2 separate regions of the Homo sapiens genome follow, and region 1 is linked to region 2. The links come from fine-mapping of genetic effects on gene expression. A gene starts in region 2. The other region holds a variant in brackets. All regions are shown on one strand. Distances are between the middles of the regions. Region 1 has its middle 8.7 kb from the start of OR2L8. Region 2 holds the start of OR2M4 (olfactory receptor family 2 subfamily M member 4).

Region 1 (5,395 bases), 290 kb after region 2:
CCCCAGGGAATGGGAGAAGGGAGAGAAGGAGAGTAATTGTTTAACAAGAACAAAGTGTTAGTTGGAGACAATGAAACTGTTTTGGATATGCACGATAGGGATGATTGCACAATATAAATGTGCAATGACACAGAACTCTACACTTAAAATGGTTAAAATGGTGTTTCTCTTATATATATTTACCCTAATAAAAATCATTTAAATGCACTGAAACTATTCTAATTTAATTTCCAAATACATTTTTTAAAAATTTTGGCAGGTTTCTGCTTCTCTGCAGAGCAATTTATTTTCAGTTACTTTATGACTTTGGGCAATTTTTTATAGAAAATTTAGAACACCAAATTATTTTCATAAATGTCATTAGGAATCAATAAGAGACTGGGATTAAGACTAATCCAATATTATATAATTTATATTACTAGTTTAATTATTGGCAAGTAGAACATGTAGTACACTGAGTCAGTTTCTCAGACAAGCTCGGTAGCCCCACTGGTTCCGTGGACCCACTGGAATTCAGGATCTAGAAAACATTTTATGTAGAAAACTTGAGGTTTCCTAATATTAAAGATGATATCTAAAGAAGCAATTAAGGGAAATGAGGACCTTGTGACAGGGGCTACATGACTTTTAAGCACTAAGCAGCCACACAAAATAGGTTATTGGGCAAGCTGGTTCATGCTTACTGTATGCTTCTACTAAAAGTTTATGCTTTTGGTTAAAAACCCAGAATTTAGTTTTATTCATTTTGTGAGGATGGTTTCCAGATGATTTGCACCCATGAGTTTGAGACCAGTCTGGGCAACTTATTCCAATTATTTTTAGGCCCAATATGTAAGTGAGATCATGTAGTTTTTTTGTGTATGTGTGTATCTGAAAGCCAGTCTGGATTGAAGGACAGAAAGAAAGGAAACCAAGACTGGTACTGGGAGGCTACAGTCATAGTAACACAATAATTCCCAGTATTTACCAGCTTGTGAGACCAAATGGGAATTAATCATGATTGGGATTCTCACTAGGAAGGCTCCATGCCACAAAATCTGAAACATACAGAAACTTTAAGATGCCGAAGAGAATAAGAGACATTCCTGTATCCCTGCCACACATTGTATTCATTAATGAAATGAAGAGACAGCCTTTGTACACAGCTCTGAGTCACACTCCATCACTAGGTTCTATAGGTACCAATGCTTGTCCATTTGTTTCACAAATTCTTTCATGACAAGGTCTCTCTCTTTCATGACAAGGTCTCTCTCTCTCTCTCTTTTTCTCTATCTCTCTCCATTCGGCGTCTGTCCAAATAGCACCACAGGAATTTGTTGGTTTAATTGAGGAATCAAGACCAAAATCCATCTATTTTTTTCATCTTCCATGTCTATTTCTCCAAGTATCATGCATATAACAAACTTCTTACATATTCCATATCTCCTTTACAATGACCATGTAAATAAATAAATGAGGGGCATGGTAATGCTAGTTCATCAGAAAGTCTAGTATCCATTCACCATTCTTTATATATCTAAACTCTCTTTTGACATGCCTCAGAGAGCAAACCTTTCAATATCTATGATATAACCCAAATACTTACTCCTCTACCTGACTTATAAGTCTCCAAAATTAACAGCAACAAAATAAAATTGATGAGCAGGACCTAACTAAATGAAAGAACTTCTGTGCAGCAAAAGAAACTACCAACAGAGGAAACAGCCAACCTACAGAATAGGAAATAATATTTGCAAACTAAGCATCTGACAAATATCTAATGCCCAGAATATATAGGGAAGTTAAATAAATCAACAAGCAAAAAACAACCCCATTAAAAAATGCACAAAGTACATGAACAGACACATCTCTGAAGAAGACATACAAGTGGCCAACAAGCATACGAAAAAATACTCAGCATCACTAATCATCACAGAAATGCAAATCAAAACCACAATGAGACACCATTTCATACAAGTCACAATGGCTATTACAAAAAATTTAAAAAAAAGCACAGATGTTGATGAAGCTGCAGAGAAAAGGGAATTCTTATATGCTGTTGGTGGGAATGTAAATTAGTCCAGCAGCTATGGAAAGCAGTCTGGAGATTTCTCAAAAAATTTAAAAAGGATACCATTTGACGCAGCAATTCCATTGCTTAGCGCGCGCACACACACACACACACACACACACGCACGTATGCACACACACACACAAAATCATTCTACCAAAAAGGCACATGCATTCATATGTTCATTGCTGCACTATTCACAACAGCAAAGACATACATTCAACCTAGGTGCTCATCAACAGTGAGTTGGATAAGGAATACCTATAGGTTTTCTGTTAAATTCAACCCAAAACTTTGATAACAATTATTGTTACTGTCTTAAAGTTTCCAATTATAGAAGGCAAAGTAACACTTTCACCCATTAAAGCTTGCTATGATACCTTTATATTTTGTTAAATACTTTATGATATTTATTAAATATACAAAATCTAGTTAACTTGATAAAATTAACTTAAAACATTTACCTCATTAAAATGTTTTTCTAGTTTTTCCTATTAATAAAACCATTTAAAAGTATTCCTAATAGAAACATTTATTTTTCTCTTTGCAATAACTTTTAGGATAAATTGTTAGAAGGGTTTGTAAAATATAAGCCTGTATGTATACATGAAATAAGACATAATTTTCAGGATATTCTTAAATATTGTATTCATGCTTCCAACAAAGAATGAGAAACTTGATTTGACTACAATCAATGTATGTAAGTATGTGTATGTATATATGTGTATGTGCATGTATTTTTCACTTGAGGAAACTAAAGTGTCAAAACAAACCATTCAATGAATAATGGTAATTTCAAGTGGAGTTGTAGATTTTTGAAAAGAAACTGATTGTGAGACTTGAAATACAATTTTAGGAAGTTTCATAAAAACACAGATATTATATTAGTACATGTTTTTAATATAATGGTTTGATTGTATTTCAAATGTAATTCTTATATATTCTTACAATTTTAGTGGGAGGGTGGTGGAAGCCTTAGGTTATCTTTGTCTTTCTAGAGTGTGTTGAGTGATTGAAATCGGTACCCACAAGAGGAACAATACATTTTTAGACATGCATTGAAAAAACAAACATATGTAAAAACTTTATTATTATTGGGGTTTTGAAAATATCCACATCTTTCTACACTTAGAAAGA[C/T]AGAAGGTTCGGTTTTCTTTCCAAAGAAACTAACAACACTCTATAGACATTGAATGTGGAAATAGAGGGAATACACAAGTGAAAGGAATTTTCCTATTCTTTTTTTTATGTAGAATGTTGCTCTAGAGCATATTTTTCATTGCCACCAGAACACTGTCAGTGCCAACGCTGTAGACGACAGGATTGAGTGTAAGTGCAAGGAAAGCATAGAATATTTCTAGAAACTTAACCTGGCCTGAAATGTGGATGATTTAAGTCTCATATACATATGTGAAAATGAATGAGTCCCAGTATGTTACAACTGCAATCATGAGGATGGACCAAGTGGAAAATGACCTTTTCCATGCCTGTGATAATTTCATCTAGAGGACACCTCACAGAATTTGGACAGAAGAAGCAGAAATCATAGAGAAAGGAATGAGCAAAAATATGATGCTGCTTACATTAACTCCTCATTCACCCTCTAGTGTTTCTACATAAGAGAATCTGATGTAGATATAAGAATATATATTTCTTTCCTAAAATAAGTTTCAATTTGTTTACTTACTAAGCCAGGTAGCAGTTTATTAAGCAGAATCGATTTACTTAGGCACTATAGAGACTAGTGGCTAATAGCCTCTTAAACTCTCTAAGCGAATACAAAATTTTACCTTATTTTGTCTAATTAATGTCTTGCATCCTTTACTTATAGCATAAGAACTCAATAGAAAAAGCTGCGTTTCTTCTCAAATGAATTGCCACAAAAGTTTAAAGGACATATCCAGCTACCAGCGACCTACAACGGAATGTTCAAAAGACTATGTGTATCTCCACCACAATACCCAGGTATCTGAACACGCACCACTACAAATGCATGTCTTTAGATTGTGATAGGCTTTACCTTTAAGCCTAATTATTTCTATGTGCAGTACTTTAGGTATGTGGTTAATGTTTAAAATATCTTACTTTCCACTTCCAATTTCATCCAAGTATGCTTTACAATCCCACACTGATTGAACCATGCTCTTTACACTCTTTATTAAGAAAAATATATGTGTGTGTGTCAGTGTGTATGTGTGCATGTGTGTGTGGGCATGTTTATTTACATGAAGTCTTCTACTACCCTCAATGTAGGCGTTTCTATGTTTCTATATCCCCAACAGGAAAAAAATGTTTTTTAGCCCTATCACAGATTATTTTTGTATTTTAATCTGGAAATTTGTAAATCTATGAATTCTGACTTCTAAACTTCTATATCATCCTCAGATCTGTTCAGCAGAATGACTTTCTCTTGCTTACAATAATATCTTGCTATTCGGATTTTTACTGTCTCTGATTTCATGCTGCTCTTGGGTCCACATTAGGTATTATTATGAGTTGTAAAAGCAGGCTTTAAAAAAATACAGCACCTGATGCATCTAATATTAACATTAGCACTTCCAGTCAATTTTGAACGTCTCTTAGCAATACATTTTTATATATCATTATATTAGTAATTTTACTCATTCTCTACTGAAATAAAACTCCTTAGCACACCAGGGATAGGAGACTGTTACAGGACTGGAATCAAGTAAAAAAACTCAATTGTCAGGGAAAAAATGTTATTAATATATAATAATTGCTTATTTTATGTCTAAATTATGAACATTAAATAGTTGTATTATTAGAAGATAATTTCATAGTTTATTTAAGGTCCTTAATATATATTGCCACACTGTTCTTTTTAAAATGTTTGTACCATATTTCATGTATGCCTACAATATGTTATGATGTCCAATTCACCAAAATATGGTTAACATTTATTACTATTGTTTTTAATTTTCCAATTGTGAAAGGCTAATCATTTTTCATTAAAGTTTCATATATATCTTCATATTTTGTTAAATATTTATTTCTATAGTATAAAACATTTAGTTGGCATGCTATAATAAAATTAACCTGAACATTTATTTCATTAAAATGTGTTTTTCTAGTTTTTGCTATGAATAACATTACTTAGGGGAGAGGCGCTCAGGGGAGTGGGTCCCAGCGGCAGCTGAGCCTGGGAGAGGAGGCCCCAGAGCCAGCCCCATCCCTGAGCTGCTGATGGGAGGGGAGGAGTCCCCTGAACCAGCCCCGTAGCTGAGGGGTTGATGGAAGAGGAGGCCCCAGAGCCAGCCCCATCCCTGAGCTGCTGATGGGAGGGGAGGAGTCCCCTGAACCAGCCCCGTAGCTGAGGGGTTGATGGAA
Region 2 (5,395 bases):
CATCGAAAAGTAGGCAAAGGACATGAACAGACACTTCTCAAAGAAGACATATATGTGCCCAACATACCTATTAAAAAAAAAAAGGCTCAACATCACTGATCATTAGAGAAATGCACATCAAAACCACAATGAGATACCATCTCATAAAGAAAATGTGGCACATATACAACATGGAAAACTATGCAGCCATAAAAAGGAAGGACATCATGTCCTTTGCAGGGACATGAATGAAGGTGTTTCAGTTTTCTAAGAATAATTCATCAGGGCAAACAGGCAACCTATAGAATGGGAACTGAAAACAAAACACCGCATGTTCTCACTCATAGGTGGGAACTGAACAGTTGAAACACATGGACACAGCGGTGGGGGAACAACACACCCTGGGGCCTGTTAAGGGGGTTGAGGGGACAGAAAGCATCAGGACTAATACTTAATGCATGTGAGGCTTAATACCTAGGTGACGGGTTGATAGGTGCAGCAAACCACCATGGCACACATTTACCTATGTAACAAACCCGCATGTTCTGCACATGTATCCTGGAACCTATAATAAAATACAAATTAAAAAAAAAAAATATTTGACTCAGCCCAGTTCAAGATGGGCAGAACTCAGGATGTAGTTGTGTGGAGCAGGGAGCACTACAAGAAATGCATCTGGAGAAATATAAAGAATCAGAGTATTTAAATACATTTCAATTTTGTTTCTAATTAAGCAAATATCAAAGAGGAAATTTATGTTGTGGACTAAAGATGTGAAGTGAAGTAAAATGATTTTGCATTGAGAAAATATCTTGGACATTGCACATTTGATGCTTTGAACAGGTTAGATCTGCGAGCCCGAAGATCATGGAGCAAACACCTTCTTTATCCAAGGGAGCCAGGGTAAAACCCCAGGCAATAACAGTGGAAGAAGAAGATGGTGGAAATAAAATCAACCATCAGGTCTTTGTAAAAAGCTCTCAATTATTATCTCTAGCCCCTCCCCCGCCTTTTTTTCAAACATGGCTCTAAAACATCATATTGTAAAACAGTACCCTGGAGTCCCAAATTAATTATATCCCAAATAAAACTCAATCCAAAGCTAGTCCTGCTGTTATTTCTGCCTGATATACATAACTGCCACCAAATTTTTTTTGAATTTCCAGATTTCAAAGCTTGAAATGATGAAATGTCTTTGTTGTTATTTCCTACTACTATTTTTCAAAATGTATTTAGCTGTATAGAAACATCAATATTTTTGCATACTCATATAATTTTTTTTGATACTGACTATTTTCTGAAGATTATTTACCATTGTGAGTGTTTATCCTTGGTGTTTATTTTTTATTCCACTAAGAAATACTAAGCAGGTAGTAGTTTTCAAATTTATTCTGTGGAATTCAATGAAATTATAAAGAAATCCAATTATCTCCTCTTTTTTCTTGGATGTATCCATGACTCATCCCATAAGTAGACATATAGCAAGCTTTCCTACTTCATATCAGCAAGCTATATATTCAAATTTGTACATCAAACCAAGTATTATACACCCTTAAGGCCAGAGCAGATTCTGTTACATCTTAATGGTATGTGGCATATGCCTATCACAACACTTTATTTATAAAGTGAAAACTAGTTTGAAATCCTTTTGCTGCTAACACCTTCCCCAGGAAATGTTCTGTTTATATCTTGGTACTCTAAATGAACTTCTGCTGATTATAATTAATGGTAAAATCCCTTTTAAAGCAGGAAAACTAAATAACAGAGACCCCTTTACTTATGTTCATGACACACAAAAAGTAACATGGCTTTATTTTATCTTAACTAAATTAAACTGTTATGTCAATATTCCAAAATAAAATTTACATTATCCATTTTAACGTTTAGAAATAGAAGAATGTGATAAATAACAAGATATAGCAAATGTTGAACTAGAGAATAACTCCTCAGCTGGTGACACATTCATTCATTTGTATGATTACTATGTTCTAGGTACTTCTTTTATTTTAATCCTGCAGAGATGTAGAGGGAATCCAAATTTCCTACAAGAATATATAAAAATATTGATGCCTCTCTAAATGAATACAAAATCTAGCCTCATTTTGAAGGTATCAACATAAAGAAGGAGCAGTACCTTTCTTTGCTCTTCCATTTTAAGAATAGAATTGCGTTACAATGTCACATGAAATTGTAAAATCCTCACATTGCTAGAACTATTTTGATTCTTCCATATGATTTTATGCCAATTATTAATGAAAAATGGAGAAGAATGAGGAAAATGATAGAAGGCACTTGACTAAGTGAGAGGAAGAATTAAGTGTCTGGAAGAGAGGTGAAGGCATATGAGGAAAATAAGTGCTAAAATTAGAGCTAAAATAGAAATAAAAAGAAAACAAAATAATATTAAGAGGGCCTGAAGTGATAAGAAATTTTGGAATATTAATGGCGATCAGAGAAGGAGAAACCACATAAACTATGAAGAGATCTAAGTGGGCACAAAGTCTTTGGAAAGAAGCTCAACCCCACTGAGTCCAGCTTTTCCCTAGACCTTGTGATTTTTACCAACCTGAAGATTTCCAACCACATATTGTAGCATATTCAATGTGTCCAGATTTCAAGAATGTCTCACACACTGTGGAATTTAACTAAATCAGATTTTATTAAATTTTTCTTTACTTCGTCTTTATAACATTGATTGTCAGAATTTTATGAATTAGTATATTTCATGAAAAATTAAGAACACAAATAAGAAAACTGGGTACTTTGTGGGAGTGAATCACTTCCCCAATAATTTCTAAACTAAAAATTTACACTGGGTGGTATGTAGAAAATTTTTAAGTCCAAATTTTCATGTATGTTTGAAGCAGTAGATAGACACCACTTGGTATATGATTGTTTTTGTAAATTCATGTTGAGGTGTAGATCCACCAGGTAGAAGATAGTTATGTTTCTCATAAAGCTTCAATAAATATTCAATAAATTAAAATAACCATTAAGAATACTATGTCTCTCTTTCTTCTTTTCCTTCATTTTTAGTATGAAACAGAAAGAGAGTCCAGGATTGCAGGAGAAATGAGGACATTTCCAGGATACTCCACAATTAGGTAGTTGTGAAGAACTACCTAATTGTAATAATCAGGTTGAGGAAGGCTTACACTTGTGTGATTCTGTATAGTGTTCCAAAAGCTTTTTAATGCACATGAACTCGTGATTTTCCTCAATAAAGTCATATAAGGTCAGCACAAGACATAACGGAATTTTTTTTCTTTTAAAGAGTGTTATATGTCTTACTCACAGGTGGTGATCAAGGGGAAAATTCGCCAAATCAGTTCTGGGTTCTTTATACTCTGGAATATAATAATCACTGCCTGAGCTGTATTACAACCTTTTCTTCTTTCTCTTCTAGAAAAGATTCAAAAGCAGCAACTCCAGTAGTCCAAATGACCCACTTGTCCGAAGGCCTATCCACCCTACAGCATCATGGACCTTAAATTCTATACCTCCACAAAATGTTAAATCCCCTGACATCAATTATAGATGGCATGCCTTCTTTCAGAATTTCTCCTAGGAAACAAAATCCATGTGGACCCCAAGGCTCTAGTTACTTTTTGCCAATACTGTCATTCTTTACTTGCTATAAAGTCATAAATGGCTGCCTACCTTTCTTTAGGAAGTAAATTGTGTTAATGAGAAACTTAAATCTTTACAGATTATTAAAATGCGATTAAAATTAAAACAGGGAATATTTATTACAAAGTAAATGAAATCTGTCAACCTGCCTTCTCAATTGTGTTAACATTTTTAACTTATTTCTAGTATATTGTATCAAATACTTAAGCTGGGCCGGGTGCAGTGCTTCATGCCTGTAATCCCAGCACTTTGGAAGTCCAAGGCAGACGGATCACAAGGTCAGGAGATGGAGACCATCCTGGCTAACACGGTGAAACACCATCTCTACTTAAAATACAGAAAAAAAAAAAAATTAGCCGGGCTTGGTGGCACGTGCCTATAGTCCCAGCTTCTCAGGAGGCTGAGGCAGGAGACTCGCTTGAACTCGGGAGGTGGAGGTTGCAGTGAGCCGAGATCGCGCCACTGTACTCCAGCCTGGTGGCAGAGTGAGACTCCGTCAAAAAAACAAAAACAAAAACAAAAACAAAAAAACACCAAATGCTTAAGCTGATATAAATGTAAATAAGCTCTTAGATGCCTAAACGTATGCAAGCATGTGATTGACAATTTAAAGGGGCACTAAAGACTTGTATGTGGCCTATATCTTTAAGATATATCCTTTGCATTTTCCAGTAAATTCACTATACTAATTCAAAACAAGTCTACATTTGGTCTTGCTTCTCTCCACTCTCAAAAGCTTTCATTTGTCTGCAGCAATGACTTTTTTTAAAGTTTAATTTAAGTTCTGGGATACGTGTGCAGAACATGCAAGTTTGTTACATGTGCCATGGTAGTTTGCTGCACACATCAACCCATCATCTAGACTTGTTTAAAATTTATTTATTTTTATTTATTATTATTATTTTTTTGAGACGGAGTCTCGCTCTGTTGCCAGGCTGGAGTGGAGTGGCACGATCTCGGCTCACTGCAACCTCCGCCTCCCGGGTTCAAGCGATTCCCCTGCCTCAGCCTCCCGAGTAGCTGGGACTACAGATGCATGCCACCATGCCTGGCTAATTTTTTTTTTTTTTTGGTATTTTAGTAGAGATGTGATTTCACCATGTTGGCCAGGATGGTCTTGATCTCCTGACCTTGTGATCCAGCCTCCCAAAGTGCTGGGATTATGGGTGTGAGCCACCATGCCTGGCCATCATCTAGGTTTTAAGCCTTGCATGCAACTCCTGGGGAAGGCATGAGTTGAACAGGTGAAGAGTAGCCAGCTTTCAACGTGGATCTCCAGAATTCTGGCAGCACAAGACTCTATGATTCTCAAAGATACTTGAGCTGCAAGGAGAGCTACTTAGAGAGATGACAGGGGCAGGACTCCATCCTGCGTAAAGCCCAGACAGTTTGGCATTGAAGTGACTGCAGTGGATCACAGCCAGGGATGCCCATCCCCCCAGGCTCACCAGGCTCTTCTATAAGGCTTTGGGCGACTGTCAGAACTGGACAGAGCAGATTGGTCTTGCCTGTGGGACAGGGCCAGTCTAATCTGAAGGCTCTTCATCTGCCAGCCTCTTCTGGGTCCCCAGCCTGGCCATGCCTGCTTGCAGCACAGCTTTGGATGCCCAACATATGTGCTTCCTGGGGGCTTTCATCGTCACCACCTTGCCACAGACTGCTCCTGTCAGAGAGCTCCTGCGGACTGGCCCTACAGACATGCACCAGCTGACCTATAGCTCCCCCAGCTGAAGCCTTCCGCTACTGCTTTGCTGGGACACGCCCACTGCTTTCTAAGGGAATTCAT

Evidence for each region.
Region 1: its variant is fine-mapped to the expression of OR2M4 in prefrontal cortex (GTEx, PIP above 0.99).

What each region holds. Positions count from the first base shown.
Region 1 is chr1:247,937,509-247,942,903 of GRCh38, reverse strand. It overlaps a transcript of OR2L13 not described here and the pseudogene OR2X1P. Among named protein-coding and RNA genes, the nearest start is that of OR2L8, 8.7 kb to the left of the region's middle. The variant C/T (reference allele first, on the strand shown) is at 3,188.
Region 2 is chr1:248,229,460-248,234,854 of GRCh38, reverse strand. OR2M4 (olfactory receptor family 2 subfamily M member 4) reads right to left here and starts at 3,438. Exons shown (of 2, transcript NM_017504.2): 1 at 3,275-3,438.